Regions from separate parts of the Homo sapiens genome. Here all the other regions are linked to region 5. Evidence: fine-mapped expression QTL. A gene starts in region 5. Each other region holds a variant in brackets. All regions are shown on one strand. Distances are between the middles of the regions. Region 1 overlaps SMIM35 (small integral membrane protein 35). Region 2 overlaps SMIM35 (small integral membrane protein 35). Region 3 overlaps SMIM35 (small integral membrane protein 35). Region 4 has its middle 21 kb from the start of TMPRSS13. Region 5 holds the start of IL10RA (interleukin 10 receptor subunit alpha).

Region 1 (5,104 bases), 38 kb after region 5:
TGGAGTGCAGTGGTGCAATCTCAGCTCACAACAACCTCCACCTCCCTGGTTCAAGTGAGGTTCAAGTGATTCTCCTGCCTCAGCCTCCCGAGTAGCTGGGACTACAGGTGCCTGCCACCATGCCCAGATAATTTTTGTAATTTTAGTAGAGACAGGGTTTCACCATGTTGGCCAGGATGGTCTTGATCTCTTGACCTCATGATCCGCCTGCCTTGGCCTCCCAAAGTGCTGGGATTACAGGCGTGAGCCACCGCCCCTGGCCCAACAATAAGTCTTAGTAAGTAAATCTCAATAAATTTTTAAAAGTTAAAATAATATACAATATGTTCCCTGACCACAGAATTATATTGGAAAATAAAGACAAAAAGATATCTGGAAAACATCCCAATATTTGGAAATTAAACAACACACTTCTAAAAACATCCTGGGTAAAAGAAGATATCACAAGGGAAATTAGAAAATACTTAGATCTGAATGATATTGAAAACACAACATAGCAAAAATGTAAGTTGAGGAGACAGTCCAAGGCAGCTAAAGTTCACAAGACAGAGGAAAGAGCTACATCAGGTAAAGAATCCAGCTATGTGCAGAGGGACCCCCTCAAGTATTCAATAAGTAATGAGTGCCTGTGTATAAAGGAGCTACCTGAGGCCAGAGAATCATCTGAAAGCATTCGTGGGAAACAGTGTCTAGCATTCAAATAGGGCTAGAAGCAGGGCCTATTCCCATAAACCAGACTAGAAAAACTCGTAATTCACAGGGTATTGGATAGGGAACTCAGGAAGTTCTTGCCTTAGTGGTGAGAATAATTAGCCTTAGACTGTTCAGCCTAAGGCTAATTATTTCCACTACACTGGGTCTTGGTTTTATGATTTGTCTACTGCTCCGAACCCATCTAACAAATCATAAAACCAAGACCCAAAAAGGTCAAACTGCTTCCAACTAACTTAACTGCTTCCCAATATATTTATAGGCAAACAAAAATATCTACCACTCAGCAAAGTAAAATTCACAATATCCTCATTCAGTCAAATATTACCAGGCACTCAGAGAGGCAGAGCAAAATGACCCATAATGAACAGAACAACCAACAGAGCACAGGCCTTGGAATCCTGCAGCCTGGGTCTGAATCCTATTCACTCATCAGTCTGAGGCCTTCAGCAAGTTATTTAACCACCAAAAGCCTCAATTTCATGTGTGTGTGAAAAAGAGGGAGAGGGAGAAAGAGAGATTCAATAAGTCTCAAATTATAAAAGACCCTTTTTTTCTATTTTATTATTATTATACTTTAAGTTTTAGGGTACATGTGCACAATGTGCAGATTAGTTACATATGTATACATGTGCCATACTGGTGTGCTGCACCCATTAACTCGTCAGTTAGCATTAGGTATATCTCCTAATGCTATCCCTCCACCCTCCCCCCACCCCACAACAGTCCCCAGAGTGTGATGTTCCCCTTCTTGTGTAAAAGACCCCATTTTTTAAGACCCAAATTATTTCCAGGGATGAAAACTACAACATCTGAGATGAAAATTACATTGAATGGAATTAACAGCACACTAGGCATCACAGAAGAAAAAAGTAGTGCACTTGAAGGCATAGCAATAGGAACTATCCAAGGTGAGACATAGAGGGGAAAAAAAGTAATAAAACAAATGAAAAAGCTGGGCGTGGTGGCTCACGCCTGTAATCCCAGCACTTTGGGAGGCCAAGGTGGATGGATCACTTGAGGTCAGGAGTTCCAGACGAGCCTGGCCAAAATAGTGAAACACCATCTCTACCAAAAATATAAAAAAATTAGCCAGGTGTGGTGGCGTGTGCCTGTAATACCAGCAACTCGGGAGGCTGAGGAAGGAGAATGCTTGAACCTGGGTGGTGGAGGTTGCACTGCACTTCAGCCTGGGTGATAGAGTGAGATGCCTTCTCCAAAAAAAAAAAAGAAAGAAAGAAAGAAAAGAGTATTAGTGAGGTGCAGGACAACTTCAAGCCACCTAATATATGTGTAATTAGATTCCCTGAAGGAGAAAACGAGGGAAAACAGAAAAAAAAATTTTGATGAGATATGGCCAACAATTTTCCAATTTTGAAGAACCTGTCAAGTTATTTGTTCAAACAAGACATTTCTTTTCCTATGAGGAATTCTGGTGCCCATGGTTGATATCATAACTCTTTTTTTATTACATCAAGGAAGGCCTAAACTATCCTTAGGAAGAAATAGACTACATTTCCTTTCAACCGACCCTCCGTAAGAATCATTCTTTTTAACTAAACCATATGTATAGGTTGGAAAATATACAGGTCAAGGGTATGGTGTCTAGTAAGGTCCTGAGCTACATGTTCACTGTATTGCTTATAAAGGGTGAGGCCAGTTTTGTTTTGTTCTGTTTTGTTTTGTTTTGTTTTTGGCAGAGTCTCGCTCTGTTATCCAGGCTGGAGTGCAATGGTGTGATCTCGGCTCACTGCAACCTCGAC[C/T]TCCCAGGTTTAAGCAATTCTTCTGTCTCAGCCTCCCAAGTAGCTGGGATTACAGCTGCCCGCCACCATGCCTGGCTAATTTTTGTATTTTTGGTAGAGGTGGGGTTTCACCATGTTGACCAGGCTGGTGTCGAACTCCTGACCTCAGGTGATCTGCCCACCTCAGCCTCTCAAAGTGCTGGGATTACAGACATGAGCCACCGTGCCCAGCCTCAACTTTTATTTTAGATTCAGGAAGTAGATGTACAGGTTTGTTAAATGAGTATATTGAATGATGCTGAGGTTTGGGATACAAATGATCCCATTACCCGGGTAGTGAGCATTACTATTACCAATAGTTAGTTCTTCAACCCTTGCTCCTCTCCCTCTCTCCCCGATCTAGTGGTCCCCAGTGTCTATTTTTCCCTGTCCATATGTACCCAGTGTTAAGCTTTCACTTGTAACGGAAAACATGTGGTATTTGGTTTTCTGTTCTGGTGTTAATCTACGTAGGATAATGACCTCTAGCTTCATCAATTTTGCTGCAAAGGAGAAGATTTTGTTCTTTCTTATGGCTGTGTAGTATTTCATGGTGTATATGTACCACATTTTCTTCATCCACTCCACTGTTGATGGGCACCTAGGTTGATTCTAAGTCTTTGCTGTTGTGAATAGTGCTGCAATGAACATATGAGTGCATGTGACTTTTTGGTAGAACTGCTTATTTTCTTTTGGGTATATACCCAGTAATAAGATTGTGCAGTCAAATGGTAGTTGTGTTTTGAGTTCCTTGAAAAATCTCCAAACTGCTTTCCACAGTGACTGAACTTTACATTTTACATTTACATTTTAATTTACATTTCGACCAACAGTGTGTAAACGTTCCCTTTCCTCTGCAGCCTTGCCAACATCTGTTATTTTCTGACTTCTTAATAGTAGCTTTCCTTGCTGGCATGAGATGGTATCTCACTGTGGTTTTGATTTGCATTTTTCCAATGATTAGTGATGTTGAGAGCATTTTTTCGTGTTTGTTGGCCACTTGTATGTCTTCTTTTGAGAAGTGTCTGTTCATGTCCTTTGCCCACTTTTTAATGGGGTTATTTGGTCTTTGCTTGTCAGATTGCCCAAGTTCCTTATAGATTCTAGATATTAGACCCTTGTTGGATGCATAGTTTGTGAATATTTTCTCCCATTCTATAGGTTGTCTGTTTGTTCTGTTGATAGTTTCTTTTGCTGTGCAGAAGCCCTTTAGTTTAATCAGGTCCCTTTTGTCAGTTTTTATTTTTGTCGTAACTGCTTTTGGAAACTTAGTCATAAATTCTTTGCCAAGGCCAATGTCCAGAATGGTATTTTCTAGCTTTTCTTCTAGGATTTTTACAGTTTTAGGTCTTACATTTAAGTCTTTAATTTATCTTGAGTTAACTTTTGTATATGGTGAAAGTTAGGGGTCCAGTTTCAATCTTCTGCATAGGGTTAGCCAGCTATCCCAGCACCATTTTTTGAATAGGGACTCCTTTCCCCATTTCTTATTATTGTAGCCTTTGTCAAAGATCCAATGGTTGTAGGTGTGCAGCTTTATTTCTGGGTTCTCTATTCTGTTCCATTGGTCTAATGTGTCTCCTTGTATCAGTACCATGCTGTTTTGGTTACTGTAGCCTTGTAGTATAGTTTGAAGTTGGGTAATGTGATGCCTGTGGTAAAGCCACATATTTTAGAACTAAACATAGAAAATGAAAAAGCTGGGGATGAGGGAGTATTTCCTCAATAGAAATGGAGAAGCCTGACCCTTTTTCTCTCCTGGTCAATGCCTATACTGAGGTGGGCCAATCTTCAGGCACAGCCACAGTTTTTCTCAGAAATAGGTCTAGGATATCTCTACTATATGAATAATTAAAGGTGATTTCTCTGTGGCTAATATATTCCAAACAGATATATTATCTTGGGGCTCCCACTAGAACATCTGGCTTTAGAAAAATCACTCTTGGTGATCTTGCCAGAATAAATTTCTTGCTTGATTAATTAATATATTCTAATTACTGGCCAAAATAATTGGGACATCAGATGGGCACATGAACCCTTACCTAGGATTTTACAGAGGGAAATAATGTATCTACCAACTCTGCATTCATTAAGATGCAGGTCTTAGGCTGGGCGTGGTGGCTCATGCCTGTAATCCTCAGCACTTTGGGAGACTGAGGCAGGAGAATTGCTTGAGCCCAGGAATTTGAGACCAGCCTGAGCAACACAGTGAGACCCTGTTTCTTTTTTTAAAAAATAAAAATATAAAATGCAGGTCTTATATAAGTCTCGGTAGCCAAGAATCTATGGTAAACTGATATGCCTCTTCACAAAATCCAAATTTAAGAAAAGGTCAATACAACTTTTGCCCCACATATGTTGCTACAGGTGAAAATTCTCAGATGTTTCTCCAACAGGCTGTCAGCTATGTGAATTTTTTAAAAATCCACCACCACCACTTTTTTTTTTTTTTTTTTTTTTGAGACGGAGTCTCGCTCTGTCGCCCAGGCCGGACTGCGGACTGCAGTGGCGCAATCTCGGCTCACTGCAAGCTCCGCTTCCCGGGTTCACGCCATTCTCCTGCCTCAGCCTCCCGAGTAGCTGGGACTACAGGCGCCCGCCACTGCGCCCGG
Region 2 (5,104 bases), 65 kb after region 5:
CCTGCCCTTCAGCTTTCCTTCCTCCTGCAGCCTCATGCCTATCGCCTAGGCTGAAGAGCTGCAAAAAAAAAAAAAAAAAAGCAAGTGAAAACGATGATGATTTTGCCAATAATCATAATGTACTACTTTTGCAACCAAAAATATATTTTTTTAAGTAAGAGCGCTATTTCACTAAACTTCCCAGGGACATTGCCAGCGTGAGCTTTAGCAGCAACGTCAGGGGTGGGCAGGGGTCAGGGATCTTTTCCAGGCCTCCACAGGGTAGCCACTGCCCTGGCACCAGGGACCACAGGAGACAATGCCACACAGAGCCAGAGAGGGGCAATGGCCCCTGCCAAGAGTGGCCGGGAGACTGGTCCAAACATTGAATTTGAGACACTGGCTGGGGACCCCAGAACCGTCTGTGAGTGATTTGAAGGGAAGCTGCAATTCTCGCATGTTTGTTCCACCCTTAATTTTTTTTTTTTTTTTTTTTTTTTTTTGAGACAGAGCCTTGCTCTGTCACCCAGGCTGGAGTGCAGTGGCGCGATCTCTGCTCACTGCAACCTCCACCTCCTGGGTTCAAGCAATTCTCCTGCCTCAGCCTCCTGAGTAGCTGGGATTACAGGCACACACCACCACGCCCGGCTAATTTTTGTATTTTTAGTAGAGACGGGGTTTTGCCATGTTGGCCAGGCTGGTCTCGAACTCCTGACCTCAGGTGACCCACCCACCTCGGCCTCCCAAAGTGCTGGGATTACAGGCATGAGCCACCGCACCTGGCCCATCCTTAATGCTTTTAATTTAATTTTTGCGTGTGTGCTTTTTAATGGTCATATATGTTTGAGTATAAATACAAATATACTTTATAAATACATAAATATCAGAGTGCATGCGCAAAATTGTTTATTGATGGGAGGCGTGATCTAAAGAGTCTGGCAAGGGTAAGTCCACGTTCCTCACTAACTACTCCTGCCTTGGATTGCCGTCAATGTGTCCGCCGTGCAAACTGTGCCTCCCACACTAGATGCTGAGGGAGGATAGTCAGGGAGGTGTTGTGGAGACCTGTGCCACTGAGTTCAAACCACCTCATGCTGAAGTGGAGTCACTGGGGCCTAGAAGGTACCAAGGGGCCCAGGATCCTTGTGGGGAGCGGATATAGAGAGGGTCTTTGAAGTCTCTCAGTACTGGAATGAGCACAGGGCTTGCCTTCAGAGGAGTGTGTGCTGGAGCCCCAGCCCTGGGACACACCAGTTGCACAATCTCAGGTGAGCCACTCTGACCTTCCAGGTTGTCTTCCATAAAATGAAGAGGCTGGTGAGTGATGTATACCTCGTGCTATTGCTGTGAGAGTCACATGAAGTAATGGAAGAGGAAAAGGGCCTTGGGGAATCACAGAACATCTTCCTTCACCCAGGCAGCATCCCAGGCACAGGTTGCCCCACAGGCCTCCTGGGCTCCTAGGTCTGTAAAGACGGGGTGCCAGCTGGGGGAACCTAGGCCAAGGCCCCTGCCCAGACAAAGCCAAGTCTGGCTCAAGTGGGCCAGAGTCATGCACAGCCCAGGTGAGCTGGGCACTAGCACCCAGCCACTGACACCAACCATCAGCTGCCCCTGCCATCTGGAGACCCAAGGCAGCTTTGGTTCTCCGTTTATCCCCACCAGACCTTGGGCAAGAAGGTGGGGAGCAGAAACAACTGACACATACAAAGTGGCGGTCACCCATCCTGAGCACCCCCGCAGTCCTCCTGCCTCAAAGCCTCCATTTCACTCACTCTTCTAGCCCCCACCCTTGCTTCCTCATCATAAGTGCCGGCCGATGCATGCATGTTGCAGAAAATAGGATAAATCAGGGTTGCTTTGATTGGTTGCAAGTTCAGAGGCTTTGGGGTTTTGTAGATCTGCCCGAAGCATTGAAACACCTAAATACTTGGATGATTCCTCTCTCCTTTGTCACCTCTGCCACAGGGATGCATCTTGAATCCCAGACCCAGGACTTCCAAACCTTTGAGCATCCTTTGTAGAAAATGGCTCCAGTGACCTCCCCCAATCCATCCCCACCCTATCTGCAGAAGAGCTTATCTGGGGGCAGGGAAGATGCTTTGATTCATTCCATTCCCCTATTTCTGATTCTCATCCTTTAGTAAAGCAGGAGAGACAGAAGGGATTGCTCTGGGCTTTTGTGAAGATGTGTGAGGGAGGTAGAGGCAGGCTCATGTTTGCCTGTATGCAGAGCCAAGAAAGGACCAGTGGATATCGGAGGCATTGTCTTTTATTCTAACTGGTGGCACAAGAAGCAGAGAAACTATCCTATCCAGTTTTGTACAGACGATGCTATGCCTTGTATTGTTCTCTGTGGATTTATAACAAAGGCTGACATCCTGAAACAGATGGGAGTTTCTCACACTCAGGCACACAGCTTGCTCACCCACCCCTGGGTCTCCCACAAGCCAGCTCACTGCCTGGCACACAGGAGCCATTCGTGGATGCTGAAGTGAGCCATGAGGACAAGGCCATGCCTGATTCGGCACTATCCTAGCACAGTCTAACACAGCTGGATGCTCGGTTTTCTTTATTTGATTAAAGGCAACTTAAATTAGCGGCCACTTCTCTCCTCCCCATGCCCTGGATGAGACCCTCATATTGAACACCCAGCAGATCTTGCAAATCAGGGCTGAGTCTCAGCGATCCATTGCACTGGTGATAGCCTGAAATTGAGGTTAAACCCAGGCGAGAGCTCTCCCAACAGCCCAAGAAGGGGGTAACGGTGAGAACTCTCACTACAGTGCAGACAGTGTAACAAGGGCTGCCAGCTCCACCCCACCTGTGCACACCCTTACCATCAAAACACACCACAGGAAGGGGAGAATAACAAAGCCAGCCATGTCATCTGTGGTTTCACCTCTA[C/T]AGTGACACATTTTCCTGTACTGGTGCCCCAGCAGGGCAATCTTAGTTTAGGTTGATACTAATACTAATACTAATACTAATACTAATACTAATACTATACTAATACTAATACTCTTGGGTTGATTGTGAACAAGAGACACGGGTGACGCAGGGAGAGTGCTAGGTGTGAGGTCCCACCTGCCAGGTGTCTGAATCATGAACCTTCTGCAGAGGGAACAGTACTGCCTGCCTCCCTAGAACATGGCGCTGATGACATGAGAGGTGTGAAAGTGCCTGGCAAAGAGCGGGAACTCTTCCACACTGTACATTGTTTAAAGCGGGAATAAGAGTTGCTGTCCAGGTTCAAAGGCAACTCTTGGAACAATGCGGGTAGCGGGTGCTCTTTGCATAAACACCATAGAAAAGGTCATCCCCACCCACGTCCCCCAACAGCTGTGCAGCTCTGCCTCCCTTTCCCCAGAGGAAAACTCAGACTCCAGTTTCCCGCGTCCGGCCTTCTACGGCTGCTCAGGACTCCAGGGGACAAAAGAAGGGCGAGAGGCAGGAGTGAGAGGGAAGTGGGTGGTTTGCTGCAAGCGGGGAGCTGCTGAGGGCAGGCTGGGGCCCTGCAGGGAAGCAGGGAGATTGTGGAAGATGTGTCTCCCACGCAGAGGAGGATTTGCCAGGAGGCCAACAAGCTAAGCTTCAAGCCGCTCACTTGTACGGACCCTTCCAAGTCCCTCTTCCTAAGTTTGTATTTATAATTTTGTATTCTTCATCTAAGAAAGCCTCAAAACTATGTAAGCCTCAGGCCCCCACAGAACCTGAGTCTGCCCTGGCTCCCACATAGAATGCTTCTCTCCTCTGAGATAAGCCCCTAGCTCTTCCCTAACGTGATCGCCTACGCCCCCTTCCTTCCAGCCACATCCCACGACCCCCACCTGGGCATTTCTCTGTCCAGCCAAACATAGGCATTGGCTTATAATGTGCCCCTGCCTGCCTCTCCTGGAACCTCTCAGCCTGGGGCACTCCTGCTCACCCTCCGAGACCCACAGCAAATACTTCCAACAATAGGAAGCCTTCTCCCAGGTCCCAGACAGAATCAACACTTCATCCTGGGTGCTGCCACCACGCTCAGCATGTCCCTCTGTCATAGCACAAATACCCCACAGGGGACTGCACTGTTGAAGGTCCACCTCCCAGCCTAGGCTGTGGTTCCTCCAGGGTCCAGACAGGCTTATCTGATTCTGTGTCTCCAAAGCCTACTAGCTCACAGCCGGGTCCGGTGGCTCACACCCGGAATCCCAGCACTTAGGGAGGCCATGACGGGTGGATTACCTGAGGTCAGGAGTTCAAGACCAGCCTGGCCAACATGGTGAAACCCCCATCTCGACTAAAAATACAAAATTTAGCCAGGCGTGTTGGCAGGGCGCCTATAATCCCAGCTACTTGGGAGGCTGAGGCCAGAGAATCGCTTGAACCCAGGAGGCAGAGGTTGCAGTGAGCCGAGATCATGCCGTTGCACTCCAGCCTGGGTGACAGAGCAAGACTCTCTAAAACACACACACACACACACACACACACACACACACACACACACACACAAAGCTTACTAGCTCAGGGCTCCCAGGTACAGGGCAAATGTTCCTTGAATAAATGAATTAACTGATGGCCTCAGCCAGGGACAATGGCAGAGTGACTGAAAAGGTCGGACTTCAGTCCTGGAGTCCCACCTGCATGGCTCCCATGCTCTGGCAACCCTTCCTTGGATTCCTTATTCAACTCCTCCAAACAGCAGTCCTGAGAAACCATTCCTGCAACCTGAGCGCCCTCTGGTGGCTGAAATGTTGCCTTCCCCCAAGAACTAGAGGCAACGGGTGGGGCCTTCCTTGGACATCCAGCATAGCTCTTTAATTCCCTAAAGCAATGTGTTTACAAGGCTCTTATTCACTTGGAGGCTCAAGTCCTACCATTTATGTTATTCTTTAGCCTGGAAGCTTTGAGAACTCATCTCATTCAAGGTCCCAAAGACCCCCACCCCAGCCCCTGTTCCTCTGACAGTGATGTGGTCTCCACATCTGCCTGCAAGGTCTCAGAGAGGAAAAAGAGGAGTTGGACCAAGACACAATCGCAAACACTGTAACCTCAAATGTTAAAATCCTGAAAGATTGTAATCTCTAAAGTCTAAACCCCTAACATCTAAAATCCCAAAAATCACAATCACAGGATCGTTTTTTGT
Region 3 (5,104 bases), 57 kb after region 5:
TTTCTATACATCACTGGTATTAAGCTATCTGAAGTGACCTCTGGTAAGCTAAGATGTACATGGTAAATCCTAGAGTAACCACTTAAAAATAGTGAAAAAATAATTAAAACATTAAGCATCAAAATACATGAAGCAAAAACTGGCAGAAATGAAGGGAGAAATAGAAAACTCAACAATAATAAGTGAAAGCTTCAAAATTCCACTTTTAATATTGGATAGAATAACTCAATAGAAGATCAAGGAAATAGAAGATTTGAACAACACTACGGACCAACTACACCTAACAGACATCTGTAAAACACTCCACTCAACAACAAAATATGCATTCAAGTGTACATAAAACATCCCCTGGATAGACCATATGCCAAGCCGTAAAACAAACCTCAATAAAATTTAAAGAATAAAAATAATACAAAGTATATTCTCTGACCACAATGAAATAAAATTAGAAATCAATAGCAAAATAAATGGGAATAATTCTACAAATATGTGGAAATTAAACAACACACTCCTAAATACGACCTATAACCAATGGATCAAGGAATAAATCAAAAGGGAAATTTAAAAAACTTGGAGATGAATGAAAATAAAGACCCGGTACACCAAAACTTGTGGGATGCAATGATCAGAGAAAAATTTATATTTGTAAATGCCTACTTTAGGAATGAAGGAAGATCTCACATCAATGGCCTAATCTTCCAGTTAATCTTCTAAGACGCTAGAGAAAGAAACACAGGCCGGGCACAGTGGATCATGCCTGTAACCCCAGCACTTTGGGAGGCCGAAGTCGGTGGATCACTTGAGGTTGGGAGTTCAAGACCAGCCTGGCCAACATGGTGAAACCCTGTCCCTACTAAAAATACAAAAATTAGCTGGGCATGGTGGCAGATGCCTGTAATCCTAGCTACTCGGGAGGCTGAAGCAGGAGAATAGCTTGAACCTGGGAGGTGGAGGTTGCAGTGAGCCAAGATTGCACCACTGCTCTCCAGCCTGGGCAACAGAGTGAGACTCTGTCACAAATGAAAAAAAAAAAAAAGAGAGAGAGAGAAAGAAAGACAAACTCAACTACAGCAAGCAGAAGAAAGGAAATAAAGCTTAGAGTGGAAACTAATAAAATAGAAAATAAACAATAGAGAACACTAACAAACAAAAAATTGGCATAAGATCAACAAAACTGACAAACCTTTAGCTAAGTTAACCAAGAAAAAAAAAGACTCAAATTACTAGAATCAGAAATGAAAGAGGGGACATTGTTGTCAACGTTACAGAAACAAACATAATAAGAAATACAATGAACAGTTGTACACCAACAAAATAGATAACTTAGATGAAATAGACAGATTCCTAGAAATACACAAACCACCAAAACTGACTCAAGAAGAAACAGATGATCTGAATAAGTATAACAAATAAAGAGGCTGAACTAGCAATAAAAAATAATACCCACAAGAAAAACCCAAGCCTAATTAGCTTTCCCACTGATTCTGCCAAACATTTAAAGAAGAATTAATATCAGTTATTCACAAACTCTTCCAAAAAATAGAAGAGGCTAAACACTTCCCAACTCATTTTATAAGGCAAATATTACCCTGATGTCAAAACCAGACAAGGACATCACAAGAAAAGAAAACCAGAGAAAAAATATCTCTTATGAATATGGACGCAAAAATCCTCAACAATTAGGAATGATTGTATGTGGAAAAAGAATAAAGAATCCTCAACAAAATACTAGCAAACCAATTCCAGCAGTATCTAAAAATAAGTATACATCATAACCAAGCTGGATTTCTCCCTCGAGAGCAAGATTAGTTCAGCATCTGAAAATCAATTCTTGTAACACATCGTACCAGTAGAATTTTTTAAATCACATGATGATCTCAATAGATGCAAAAAAAGCATTTGACAAAATCAAACACTCTTTCATGATAAAAACACTCAACAAACTAGGAACAGAAGAGAACTTCCTCAACCTGACAAAGAGCCTTTATGAGAAACCCACAGCAATCATGCTAAATGGTAAAAGGCAGATGTTTTCTTCCTAGGATCAGTAACACGACGAAGATGTCTGGTCTCACCACTTCTGTTCAACATTGTACTGGAGGTTCTAGCCAGGGAAATAGTCAAGAAAAAGCAATAGAAGGTATCCAGATTGGAAAGGAAGAAATGAAAATATCTCTGTTCACAGATAACACAGTCTTACATATGGAAAATCCTCCTCCTTGAAGTCTGGGTATTTGGTAAAAC[AT/A]TTTTTTTTTTTTAAAGAAAATCTTAAGGAATCCACAGACAAATGTATAAACAGAATGTGGTATATCCATATAACAGAATATTCGGTCATATAAAGAAATGAAGTATTGATACATGCCACTTGAATGAACCTCAAAAACATTATGCTAAGTGAAAAAAGCCAGTCACAGAAGTCCACATATTATATGATTCTATTTATACAAAATATCCAGAAAATCTATAGAGGAAAATCTATAGAGAAAGAAAGTAGAGGCTGGGCGCAGTGACTCACACCTGTAATTCCAGCACTTTGGGAGGCTGAGGCGGGCCGAACACGAGGTCAGGATTTCAAGACCACCCTGGCTAACACAGTGACACCCTGTCTCTACTAAAAATACAAAAAATTAACTGGGCGTGGTGGTGGGCGCCTGTAGTCCCAGCTACTCGGGAGGCTGAGGCAGGAGAATCGCTTGAACCCGGGAGGTGGAGTGAGCCAAGATCGCACCACTGCATTCCAGCCTGGGCGACAGAGAGAAACTCCATCTCAAAAAAAAAAAAGGAAAAGAAAAAGAAAGTAGGTTATGGGGGGGCCAGGGGAAGTGGGGAGAAAAGGAGGGGGTTATCTTAGCTAAAGGGTATGGGTTTTTTTTTTAGGCGATGAAAATGTTCTAAAATTGACTGTAATGGTGGCTGCAGATATGCATGAATATATTAAAAACATTAAATTATATACTTCTAATGGGAGAATTGTATGTTATGTGAATTATATCTAAACAAAGCTGTTAAAAAAGCGATAAAATGCCAACCTATATTTATCTCTGTCTAAATTATCCCCTGGAGAGAAGGAGTTCCTAAATCCTTAAACTTGAAGAAGTGCATTGAAATGCATTTTCTATAATCCAGGTTTCCTGCAGATATGTAACACTCAAAACCCATGCAAAAAGCAGAGGTATCAAGATCCTTACACTTAGGTAAGAATCTACCCTAATTGTACTTATCTATCCATCTACTCATATTCCAGAAACCAAATCTTAGTCACTGAGAAGTCTGGCAGAATTGAAAAAAAAAAAAAAAAAATGCAGCCGTGAGTACGTGCCAAGCAGCATGAAGGTAATGGTGGCATTATGCACCTTACTATTTACCAAGCCATTTGGATGAACTGACCTAAAGCCAGGAGATCTTGCAAATGGTCATCCCACCGCCCATCTAAATCATGATTTCTCTCCAGATGCCCCTCCAACTCCCATTTAAAGTTCCTTCTAGGATGGGTGCGGTGATTCATGCCTGTAATCCCAGCATTTTGGGAGGCTGAGGGTGGGCAGATCACTTGAGGTCAGTGAAACCCTGTCTTTACTAAAAATACAAAAATTAGCCAGGCGTGGTGGCGGGCACCTGTAATTCCAGCTACTCCGGAGGCTGAGGCAGGAGAGTTGCTTGAACCCATGAGGCAGAGGTTGCAGTGAGCCGAGACTGCACCACTGTACTTTAGCCTGGGCAAGAGTGAGACTCCATCTCCAAAAAAAAAAAAAAAAAGTTCATTCTACTAAAAAAAAAACAAAACAAACAAACAAACAAAAAACCTCCTAGTTTGATCACTTAGAAGAAACCTCCAGCAGGTGATTGGACATCTCTAGCTTTTAGATTATACTGACAAGGAACTTTAAAACAAAACAAAACAAAAAATGAAGAAGCAAGCAGCACAACCCCCTGGAAGATTAGCAACACATCAAACAAAATCAGAAGGAAGTTCTAAAACTCAAAACCTAAGTACAACAGACCCTAGTGGGAGGCCCTAGGCTTTACTATTAGGATCAATGGTGGAGGCAGATGTGGAGATGATATTGCCCAAGGTCCAGGTTTGGCAAGAAAAATGGAACATTTTCATCTCCATTGGCTTCTAGGCCCCCTCACCCTCAATACATCAGGTTTTATGGAGCCTACACTTTTCTCCAGCTGGAATCAAGAATTCCTCCTTTGTTGCTCATCTGTTGCTCATCAATTCCACGTTTTAAAGATCAGTTCAAGTTGCAGAAGAATAGATATCACATAATTCTAGTTATGGTATACACACATGCACACACACACACACACACACACACACACACTAGAGAGAGAGAAAGGCTGTCACCAAGTTGCGGTTCTCCCTATGATTAAGGCAAGTCAGGGCAGGTGTAAAGCAGGTGATGATAGGGTTTATGAAGAACCAGGGGAGTGGGGTAGGGAGTAGAAGTAAAAAGAGCCTTTCAAGTTTTGCCTTAGTATTAGCTTGAACCATATAAAATTGTCATTTTTAAAGGTCAAAAACAGGTATCATCAATTTCACATGATTTTCATCTTTTGCAATAGAAATATTTGTGTGATGAATAATATTGCTGAAGAAAACAAACCAATCACATAACAATAAAAAATCAAGTATCTCCTGTTTGAAACTAGACCCATTGGTTTGTTTACTGCTCTCTAAACTTTACCTTCACTCTCTCTCTGATAATGTACAGCTCTGAATCTTTCAACCCAGTATAATGAATGAACAGACAGCAGATTTCAGGCAGATCTTTTTAACTCTTGACCATCGGGATATTTGCTTTAGCAGTGTGTGATGACGGAAAAAGACTTGGAGCCAGGCCATCTGGAAGCTAAAATATCATTACTCTGGGCAAGATTGAGTTTTAATCCTCTCTTATGTTGAAATGGGGATTAAAATATTAACTTCACAAGGTTAACGTGAAGATTAAGTGAGACGTGTATGTGAAAGGAGAGTTATATGGCTCCTGACACATGGTAGATATTCAATAAGTTATTTTCCTTCACTTAGAGTGAAATTTTCTAGAACAGCATAGAGTGTTGGCAGCTCTTCAATAATTTATCAGTAGCCTTTGTCCTC
Region 4 (5,104 bases), 36 kb before region 5:
CAGGGATCAAGTGGTCGGGGGGTGAAGGGGCAGGTAGGGGGTGGCAATGTTGGCAAATCATTTAAAGCTGAGCGTTAGACATCCCTGTTCAATCCTGTGCAGGATATATGAAGGTACAGGGATCAGGTCAACATGACGCCATTTGCAGACCTAACCTTATAGTAGGAAGACTGGCTCCAAGGCAGCTGGGGTTCTGGATACAAGAGTGCTGTGCTGTGCACATAGACAAGAGCCCTGCTCTCAAGAAGCTTACATTCTAGTAAGGAATGGGAGACAGGCAACAGACAACTGAACAAGTAAGTAAACTGATGATTTCTGTAGTATTAAGTGTCATAAAGAAAATAAAATGACGGCCGGGTGCGGTGGCTCAAGCCTGTAACACCAGCACTTTGGGAGGCCGGGGCAGGCGGATCACCTGAGGCCAGGAGTTCGAGACCAGCCCGACCAACATGGAGAAACCCTGTCTCTACAAAAAATACAAAAATTAGCCAGGTGTGGTAGCACATGCCTGTAATCCTAGCTACTCGGGAGGTTGAGGCAGGAGAATTGCTTGAACCCGGGAGGTGGAGGTTGCAGTGAGCCGAGATTGTGGCATCACTCCAGCCTAGGCAACAAGAACAAAACTCCACCTCAAAAAAAAAAAAAAAAGAAAGAAAGAAAGAAAGAAAAGAAAATGATATGAAATGATAGGAAGTGGCTGGTGGGGCTGGGTGTGGTGGCTTCCTGTAATCCCAGCACTTTGGGAGGTCGAGGCGGGTGGATCCCTTGAGCTCAGGATGGTAAAACCCTGTCTTTACAAAAAATACAAAAACTAGCCAGGCGTGGTGGAGTATGCCTGTAGTCTCAGGTACTTGGAAGGCTGAGGGGGGAGGATCACTTGAGCCCAGGAGATTGAGGCTGCAGTGAGCGGAGATCACACCACTGCACTCCAGCCTAGGCAACAGAGAGAGACACCCCCCGCCCCGCCAAAAAAAATTAATTAATTAATTAAAAATATTTTTGGCCGGACGCGGTGGCTCACCTCTACCCAGAGACTGTCACAGCCAAGAGGAGCCTATGGAGACATGGCAACTAATTATGACACCCTGGATCAGATGCTGGAATAGAAGAAGGATGTTAGGGCCGGGCGCAGTGGCTCACGCCTGTAATCCCAGCAGTTTGGGAGGCTGAGGTGGGCGGATCACCTGAGGTCAGGAGTTCGAGAGCAGCCTGGCCAACATGGCAAAACCCCTTCTCTACCAAAAACACAAAAATATTAGCTGGGCGTGGTGGTGCATGCCTGTAGTCCCATCTACTGGGGAGGCTGAGGCAGGAGAATTGCTTGAACCTGGGAGGTGGAGGTTGCAGTGAGCAGAGGTCATGCCACTGCACTCCAGCCTGGGGGACAGTCTTGCTCTGTCCCCCCACCAAAAAAATTATTTTTGTCTCAAAAAATAAAAAATAAAAATAAAAAGGAAGTGGCTAATGGGAAAGAAGGGAGGCACCTCTAAAAATGAGGTCAGGGATCTATCTAAGAAGGTGATGTAAGATGACACCTGAATGGTGAGAAGGAGACAGAGAGAGATGGAGGAGAAGATTGAACAGTGAGGAAGGAAGACAGAGATAAAGAAGAAACGGCACTTAGGATGATGCCTCAATAAGAGACTCCCATGGCAAGGCGCCCGATGTGATTCTCAAGCCAGGAAGATCAATGTGTGCATTCAATCGTGTGTCCAATCAGGGCACAATGTGGTCTCTCCTCTGAGCCCTTCATTTTCACAAAATCGATCATAGTCATGGATGTTTTATGCAAGGGGATTTTTACTTCTTAATTTGGTTTCTGTCTTGGTTTTGGTGGAAATCAAGGGAAGAACTGAGATTGCTACCCATGGAGCAGAACAGAAAACACACGTTTGAAAACAGAAGCCCAGAGGTAAAGGCAGGGTGGCCCACACATCCCCCTGGAAATTCCTCTCAAGCAGGGCTCCAGACCACATCAGGCCTGGGGCTTGAGATTCAAGCTTGTCTTATCTAAATCTTGAGGAGCAGGGAGGCCTTGGCTGATTTTTAGGATATAATCCCCAATGTGTATTGAGCACTTACAAGCTCTTTCCTTTCAATCTCTCTTTTCATCTTTGCATCCAGGTACCGCTGTTATTCCCACTTTATAGATGAGGAAACTAAGGCCAGGAGATGTTAAGTAACTTGTTGAAGATGGCATAACTAATAAGTGGGAGAAGCAGGATTTAAATTCAGGTCTGACTCCATCCCTGTGCCCTGAACCACGCACACCCTACGTATGAAATATATAAATGAATTTTAAAATGAATGCTTTTTGGCCAG[G/C]TGCGGTGGCTCACGCCTGTAATCCCAGCACTTTGGGAGGCTGAGATGGGTGGATCACGAGGTCAGGAGTTTAAGACCAGGCTGGCCAAGATGGTGAAACCCCGTCTCTACTAAAAATACAAAAATCAGCCGGGCGTGGTGGCGTGCACTTGTAATCCCAGCTATTCGGAAGGCTGAGGCAGAGAATTGCTTAAACCTGGAAGGCGGAGGTTTCAGTGAGCCAAGATTGCACCACTGCACTCCAGCCTGGGTGACAGAGTGAGACTCCGTCTCAAAAAAAAAAAAAAAAAGAAAGAATGCTTCTTTTGCCCCCCTGCCCCCAACATTCAGATAAAAGCACTTTCTCTCTTTTGAACTTCCATAGCAGTTGCTCTGGGTTGAAATTGGAAAGAACCTTTGAATACATAGGGCAGCAGTTCTCAATCAAGGCACATTGGCAATCTCTAGACATTTTTGGTTGTCACAACTAGTGGTGAGGAATGCCGCTGGCATCAATTGGATCGAGGCCAGGACACTGCTAACAACCCCAAAATGCACAAGACAGCCCTCCACGAGAATTACCCAGACAAAAATGTCACAAATGTTGAGGCTGAGAAACCCTCCGGTAGAGGGTGTCGTCAAGGAAAGCAGCTGGCTGGCTGGAGTGATGTTATCTTGATAGTTTAACCTCAACCTGGGGTTTGTTTCTCACTTGTCAAGCCCAGAACCTTGAGTTTGTGAATTCTCTGAGATGAAAAGGTCCTGAAGAAATGATTCACATCAAACCAAAAAGCATAAGAAAGTGATTTTTAACTTTTTAGAAAAACACAGTTATCCTCCTCCAACCCAAAACAAGCAAGAATTCTTCCTATTATTAACCCTTCCACTGCCCCCACCAACACATACACACAAATACCCACTGGAATCCATCCAGGGAACTGGGCAGTAAACCCTGGGTGGTCACCTGCAGCTCAGCACCACTTTTGACTCCACCTGTCCAGAGCTACTGTGGTGGCACCTGGGGAACAGGTAAACAGAAGCAACCTTTCTAGAAAGATCCAGACCTGGAGATAGTCTGAGATTTGCAGAGACAAAGCCAAAGGGAGAGAGCCCAGGACAAAGGCCAGTGAATTCTCCAAAGTGACGTGCATGCATTTGCCACAAGAAACCTGGTGGCCACAGAGTCCAGAATGCTCTTGTCAGCAGAGCAATAAATTCTGTCCCCAGAGAGAAGCTCACTTCAGGCTACAGACAGACTCAGCCACTGAAGCAAACCCTCAGGAAGCCAGCTGCTCATCCAGTGTGCAACAAACCCTCACAAGAGAGGTGTGCGAACTTCGTAGGCTCTTCAGCCTTCCAGAGGACCTTCCTCATCCCAGGATTGACCAGGCCAGACCCTGCTAGAAGGATTCTAGCACCAAATGCACTCTACCTTCAAGCTCTGCCTCTCAGTCCTAGGGAGACCTGTACTGTGCACTGGAGGCCCTCCCTCTCACGGAGGCTTTCTTCCTCTTGTTGGCACGTAGACCAAGTTGTGGTTGAGTCTCTCTGCAGCCTAAAGTCAGCTGGTATCTAGATTTGATCTGGGATGCGTTGACTTTCTAGTTTAGCTCTCTTGTGTCCCTTGTTTATCAGTACTACTAGTTCAGGGGGCACCTGTCTGCTTCACTCTGGCCCTGTGCTAGATCACCAGTCACTTTCTACACTGTGTTAGCGTCACCTGAGCATGTATGTCACCCTCCCCACTAAGTCTAGGGTTGGCAAGACAGCTCAGGCAAAGTCAGAATTGCAACCCAGCTGTACTGAACACTGGCTGTGTAACCCTGGGCAATGGATTTCATCTCTCCAAGTCTCAGTTGCCTCATCTATAAGCCAGAACTCCTGACTGCAGCTGGATCGGGTCGGTGTGAGGATCAGATCAGGATAGACACACGCAGTGCCCCACACCATGCCTGGTGGGTGGTGAGCACTCAGTGTGTGTGGGCTCTCATCGTCGCAGCGGATGCCCTGCACAGAGCCTGCGAGTGGGAGCTGGTGCCTCACAGCAGCAGGTGCCATGCATGTCTGATTCAGGGAATCGGTGCAAACTCCTTGTTCATGACTTGTTTCAAGCACATATGCTCGTCTGACCAGTGCAGATTCAAGACTTTAGTAGGACAGAAAGAACAGCAGTGTGGCCAGGTGGGGTCACAGGCTTGATGCCAGCCCTGCCTCCACCCTTTGCGGCTGTGGGACCCTGGCAGGTTACTTAACTACTCAGTGTCCTCAATGAAAAGCGGGGCAGAGGGCAACCCTTCCCTTCTAGGCCAACACTGCCCATTAGAAATGGAACACAAGTCACAAACACAAGCCGCATATGTGATTTTTTAAAATGTAGTACCTACATGTCACAAACATTTTTTTAAATGAAATTGGCCTTAGTCATATCTTTTTTCTAACCCGGAATACCCAAAATATTGTCATTTAGATATGTAATCAATTAAAGAATGAATGGGATATATATATAAATATGAACTCTTTGATATCCAGTGGTTTTTTTTTTGAGATGGAGTCTTGCTCTGTCGCCCACGCTGGAGTGCAGTGGAGCGATCTCGGCTCACTGCAAGCTCCGCCTCCCAGGTTCACGCCATTCTCCTGCCTCAGCCTCCCGAGTAGCTGGGACTACAGGCGCACATCTCAGGTCACACTAGCCAGCTTTCGGGTCCCCAGCAGCCACGTGGGGAGTAGCTACCACTCAGGACTGTAGCTCCAAATGAGCGCATGGAGGTAAATTAGCTGGACCCAAGTAGGTACATGGCGAATG
Region 5 (5,104 bases):
GGGCGGGGTATGGCCGGGTGGGTGGGGCAGCAGGCCTGGAGTGGGGCCTTGCTGGCCAGAAATGTCCTGAGCCCCTCTTCTTTGGTTTGTCTGAGAACAAGGGCAGGGCTTGAGGGATGCACACACAGTCCCAAACACACATATGCACTTGGCAAACAGACAACGTTCTCCACACCACAATGAAATCCAAATCCACAGACTGGCCACTGCAAATCATATATGACTGCAAGTGCACACACACACACACACACACACACACACACACACACACACTTTGAAGCAGGTGTCAGCCTCCAAGAAAAAGTGATGGACAGTCTGTCTCTCATATCCTCACATATTTGGTTCACCTGGAGATGGCCTCAGATGAGCCAAGTGACACAGAGGTGCGAGAGACTGAGGATGTGCTGAGGTGTTACCCAGCACTCCAGTAGTGCTATTACCCAACACAAAAATTGGTCTGAATATCAGATTTCAAGCAAGCAAGGGAAACCCAGAAGAGACTGGGAGAAGTCCTTATGGAGGCTAAAGCAACTCCATGTTGGATGCTAATCCACAGTTTTGGCCGTGTTGGCTTTGGAGCCTCCCAGAAGACCTCTGAGATTCCCAATTTATCAATTGCTCCTTGTGTAAGTGCAAACACTTACTGTAAATCCGGCCCTTAGGTCAAACAACCTTGATGTTATCATACTTCAACTGTCCTACACATCTTTTCTGAATCACCCTTCCCCTGTGGTCTATAAGCCCTGGTCCTGGGGGTGAATCATGGAGACACAAACGTAGCTTCTGTTTATAAGTCCTTATTAAATGTTTTTTTCGAAGAAACTGGATGTGTCAGCCTGTAACCTGCAAAAGGATCTGGCTGCTCTCTGCTTGTAGAAAGAATGGATAATAAAGGAAAATCTGCTAGCTGCCATGCTAGCAGGGGAAGAGCAGCAAACAATTCCACTCTTCAATTCATGGGGGGAACGCAGGGGTTTTTTAAGAAAGGATCTGAAATGCAGAAAAGGCAAGGGGGAGGTTAGGAGGTACCAGGTGGTGTGACTTGCTCCAGTGGTCCTCTTTAATTATCGTCTTATTTGGTGGAGGGGCTGGTGCAATCGTGGATCCTGCCAGGTTATAAATTAGTTACTCTTCAGCAGGGTATATGTTCAACTCCTGAAGTAAGCTTTTGTTGGAGAGAGAATTCCGGAGGTGCCTGGTCCCTATCAGGACGCAGCTCCTGAGGCATCTAAGGAAATATATGACCAGGTAAGAGCATAGCGTGTGCTTAACAAGCACGTAGGTAAATAAACGTGCGTAAGGCATGGGAGTACAGTATGGGACAGGAAAGGGAGTGGAGGTCACAGCACGTCCTGAGGCTGTGTTTTAAGATGAGAGGTAACATACATGCAGTTTGTCTCAAAATTATATCTTGAGGCCCAGAGGAGGAAGAGAAAAAAGGAAAGAAGAGAAACTAAGTTTAAAACACGGTTTAAGGCTGGGCGCGGTGGCTCACCCCTGTAATCCCAGCACTTTGGGAGGCTGAGGCGGGTGGATCACCTGAGGTCAGGAGTTCGAGACCAGCCTGGCCAACATGGTGAAACCCCGTCTCTACTAAAAATACAAAAATTAGCCCAGGCGTGGTGGCACATGCCTGTAATGCCAGCTACTCGGAAGGCTGAGGCAGGAGAATCGCTTGAACCTGGGAGACGAAGGTTGCAGTGATCCGAGATCACGCCACTGCATTCCAGCTTGGGCGACAGAGCGAGACTGTAAAAAAAAAAAATAGATAAAAAAATTTTAAAAATCGCGGTTTGAGGCTCAGCTGCTGAGCTGCTGGTTAAAAGCCTCTTTCTTGGGTCTCTCAGCTTCCTGGGACTTTGGGGGCAGGTCTGCATAAACTGCTTAGTTGTGGACCCCCCTCCAACAATTAGGTAGGGGACTACTCAGTATTCATCCATCGGTGTCCTCAGACCCCCAGACGGGGAGGCCCTGGGGCAACGCCAAGACTCACACCGGCGTCCTGGCGCCTTTGCCCTCAAGGGCCTGCAACTACCTCCTCCCCATTCGGAGCGGCCGCGGCCACATCCTTAACGCCAAGCCGGCACGCCAGGCAAAAGCGGCTCGGACGCCCTCACCCCACCTTCCGCACTCAGGGCCGAGGCTGTGCCTGGCCACCTGCTTCCCAGCACATGCACACACGCGCGCGCGCACACACCCACACACACGTACCCACGGCCGGCCGGGCTACCCGGACCACTTTGATCCGAAGGCACTGGAGGCCCAGAGGGAAGGAAAGGGAGGGGTGGCCGGAGCCCGCTAGCGCCCCAGGACAGCCTCGGGTTGCCCCAGGCGGTAGCCCTGTGGGACAGTGGTTCCCCGTCCGCGGCCTCGGGGGCGGGGCGTCTGTAGGCCTCGCCCCGCTGACGTCAGCCCTGCGGGGCGCTGGCGGAGCGGGCGGCGGAGCTGTCAGTCCCAGCCCAAGGGTAGCTGGAGGCGCGCAGGCCGGCTCCGCTCCGGCCCCGGACGATGCGGCGCGCCCAGGATGCTGCCGTGCCTCGTAGTGCTGCTGGCGGCGCTCCTCAGCCTCCGTCTTGGCTCAGACGCTCATGGTAAGGCTCCGGGACGCGGCCCTTCCCTGCCCTGCCCTCTCCGCGCCCGCTCCATTAAAGTTCTCCATCCAGTGGAGAGCCCTGGCTGGCTGGCCCTCTGGCAGAGCGGTGCCCGGGTGCTCCCTTACTCTGGCAAACCTGGATCTCAGGCTCACCTGTTGTGGAAGTGGAAGAGGCTGAAATTGACAGGAACTGACGGATTGGGAAGGATAGAGAAGTATGCGCAAGGCCAAACCCCCAACCCGCAAACCTCATCATCCACCCACTTCTAGATGAGCCGTAAGTTTAGCTCTAGGTTTTTTGCTGTTTAGGTTCAAATGATGGGACTTCTTGTCCCCTTGGGGAATAATTTTGATCTCCTGACTCTCCCTTCTCTTAGTCGACTCTTCAACTAACCTCTGTCTGTCCTTCTCCCATCTCACCTTCATCCCTCACTGATCACCCCGATCTGATCCCCCTTGCTCCACCTGTAGCCCCCAACTCACTCCCACTGCCCCCTGCCTCTCTCCTCCTAACCCAGCCAGTTCAGGCTTCTAACCCAGTTCAGGCTCCTAACCCAGACAGTTCTCCGGCAAGGTTTCTGCAACTAAGAAAAGTAAACCCCAGAGACAGAATGAAAGAGCCGGGAGTTGGAAGGACCAAGAGCAGAGACAGAGAGCAAGGACCGAAACTGCTTCTTCATGACACCAAAATACAAAGTAAAACATGCAGTCAGCCATTCACGTGATCGAGAGCTGAGTCGGAGATGTGCAGCCCAAATACCACAACGACTCGCTGCATTTTTCACTTTCCGTCTAATGTTTCGAAATCAAGGCACTGACGTGAAGATCAAAGACGGTATAAGAAAGAAAGCAAGAGACAGATGACAGAGTCCTCCCCCCCAAAAAATAAATAAAAAACAGGTGCATGATTAGAGAGATGTAGAGAAGTTAGAACACTAGGGAGCGGGAGCAGAGTCGCTGTCAAATGGAGAGAACTTAGAGGATCAAGGAGGAGAGAAAGGGAACCAACCAGCCGTTGGCCTTGCACATACTTCAGTCTGCTTGATCAACAAGACTCTTAAAGTAGAAATGTTTGTTGCATTCTTACAAAGAAGACAATGCCTTCAGCAGTGTTTCCCATGGTGAATGGTGTGTACTGGGGGTAAAGGGAGAGTAGAGCTAGGAATTGGTATTGAGTATCTCTCCTCGGAGCTACAGGTGCCAGCTCTTGTGGGGATGTCCTCAGCCATGTGTAGAGCCAGAGCTGATTTATTCCATCTGTCCTTGCCCAGCCAGAGGTTGGACATCTGGCTATAGGCAAAGCCCTCCCAGAAACTAGGGAATGAGGCAAGCACTTAGCTTGGGGAGCCCAGGAGACCTATGAAGAGAAGGAGGCAGATGTCAGCAAGCAGGCTGTCTGTGTACTTAGTGAGGTGGCTTTGAGCTGGAGCCTGGGCCAAGCCAGGGTGGGGATCAGGTGTGTGGATGGGGCCAAGCCTAGGAATAGTGCTAGAGCAGGGACAGGGATTGGGCAGAGCCAGGGACTAACACATCTGAGAGCTCATTGCCAACTTGCTTAGCCCTCGGCCCCTGCCTTCTTCCCTGGTAGGCATCAGACTCAGCTTGGCTCTTCTCAGCCCCCACTGCAGCTTCTGATCACAGAGAGCACAGGGCAGTGATTTAGGGAGACACACTAGCTCTAGAATCAGACACATGTGGATTCATGTGCCCACTCTGCCCCTTACGGGCTCCGCTGGCCTCGGGCGAGTCATAGCCTCTCTGAACCTCCCTTTCTTCTTTGGTAAAATTGGGGTCATCAATGCCTGCCCCCCCTCCCAGCTGTGGTACTGACACTCTTCTCCCCAGGGACAGAGCTGCCCAGCCCTCCGTCTGTGTGGTTTGAAGCAGAATTTTTCCACCACATCCTCCACTGGACACCCATCCCAAATCAGTCTGAAAGTACCTGCTATGAAGTGGCGCTCCTGAGGTGAGGAAAAGGGAAGAGGGAGGGGGAGGGAGGAGTGAATCCCCGCCTTGTCCTCTACTCTCCTAGCATGGGAAGATACCTGCCTTGTTAATGAAGTGAGTGCCTGAGGGCCCCTAACACATAGCCAGCAGTTGACAAGTACTGACTGAGACTCCCTTGCTGAGCAATGTGCCGGGAGCTCTGGGTGAAAAGGCCAGAGCCTTTGCTCACTCCAGAGTAAGAAAAGCCTTGTGCCAAGGCTTTTCTCTTTTTTGTTTTGTTTTGTTTTGTTTCGTTGAGACAGCTTCTCGCTCTGTCACCCAGGCTGGAGTGCAGTGGCGCAATCTCAGCTCACTGCAGCCTCTGCCTCCTGGGTTCAAGCAATTCTCCCATCTCAGCCTCCCAAGTAGCTGGGATTACAGGGGTCCACCACCATGCCTGGCTAATGTTTGCATTTTTAGTAGAGACGGGTTTTCACCATGTTGGCCAGGCTGGTCTCGAACTCCTGACTTCAGGTGATCCACCCGCCTCAGCCTCCCAAAGGGCTGGGATTACTGGCGTGAGCC

What was found. PIP is the estimated chance that this variant, and not a neighbour inherited with it, causes the effect.
Region 1: its variant is fine-mapped to the expression of IL10RA in whole blood (INTERVAL, PIP 0.95).
Region 2: its variant is fine-mapped to the expression of IL10RA in whole blood (TOPMed, PIP 0.98).
Region 3: its variant is fine-mapped to the expression of IL10RA in whole blood (INTERVAL, PIP 0.99).
Region 4: its variant is fine-mapped to the expression of IL10RA in whole blood (TOPMed, PIP above 0.99).

Annotation. Positions count from the first base shown.
Region 1 is chr11:118,022,087-118,027,190 of GRCh38, forward strand. The region is part of intron 1 of SMIM35 (small integral membrane protein 35); the gene reads right to left. Among named protein-coding and RNA genes, the nearest start is that of IL10RA, 38 kb to the left of the region's middle. The variant C/T (reference allele first, on the strand shown) is at 2,475.
Region 2 is chr11:118,048,885-118,053,988 of GRCh38, forward strand. The region is part of intron 1 of SMIM35 (small integral membrane protein 35); the gene reads right to left. Among named protein-coding and RNA genes, the nearest start is that of TMPRSS4, 26 kb to the right of the region's middle. The variant C/T (reference allele first, on the strand shown) is at 2,887.
Region 3 is chr11:118,041,034-118,046,137 of GRCh38, forward strand. All of the region lies in intron 1 of SMIM35 (small integral membrane protein 35), which reads right to left. Among named protein-coding and RNA genes, the nearest start is that of TMPRSS4, 33 kb to the right of the region's middle. The variant AT/A (reference allele first, on the strand shown) is at 2,245.
Region 4 is chr11:117,947,557-117,952,660 of GRCh38, forward strand. No RefSeq gene overlaps it. Among named protein-coding and RNA genes, the nearest start is that of TMPRSS13, 21 kb to the left of the region's middle. The variant G/C (reference allele first, on the strand shown) is at 2,323.
Region 5 is chr11:117,983,944-117,989,047 of GRCh38, forward strand. IL10RA (interleukin 10 receptor subunit alpha) reads left to right here and starts at 2,451. Exons shown (of 7, transcript NM_001558.4): 1 at 2,451-2,591; 2 at 4,439-4,559. The coding sequence starts at 2,525. RefSeq lists enhancers at 1,879-1,938, 3,329-3,628 and silencers at 2,129-2,228, 2,249-2,528.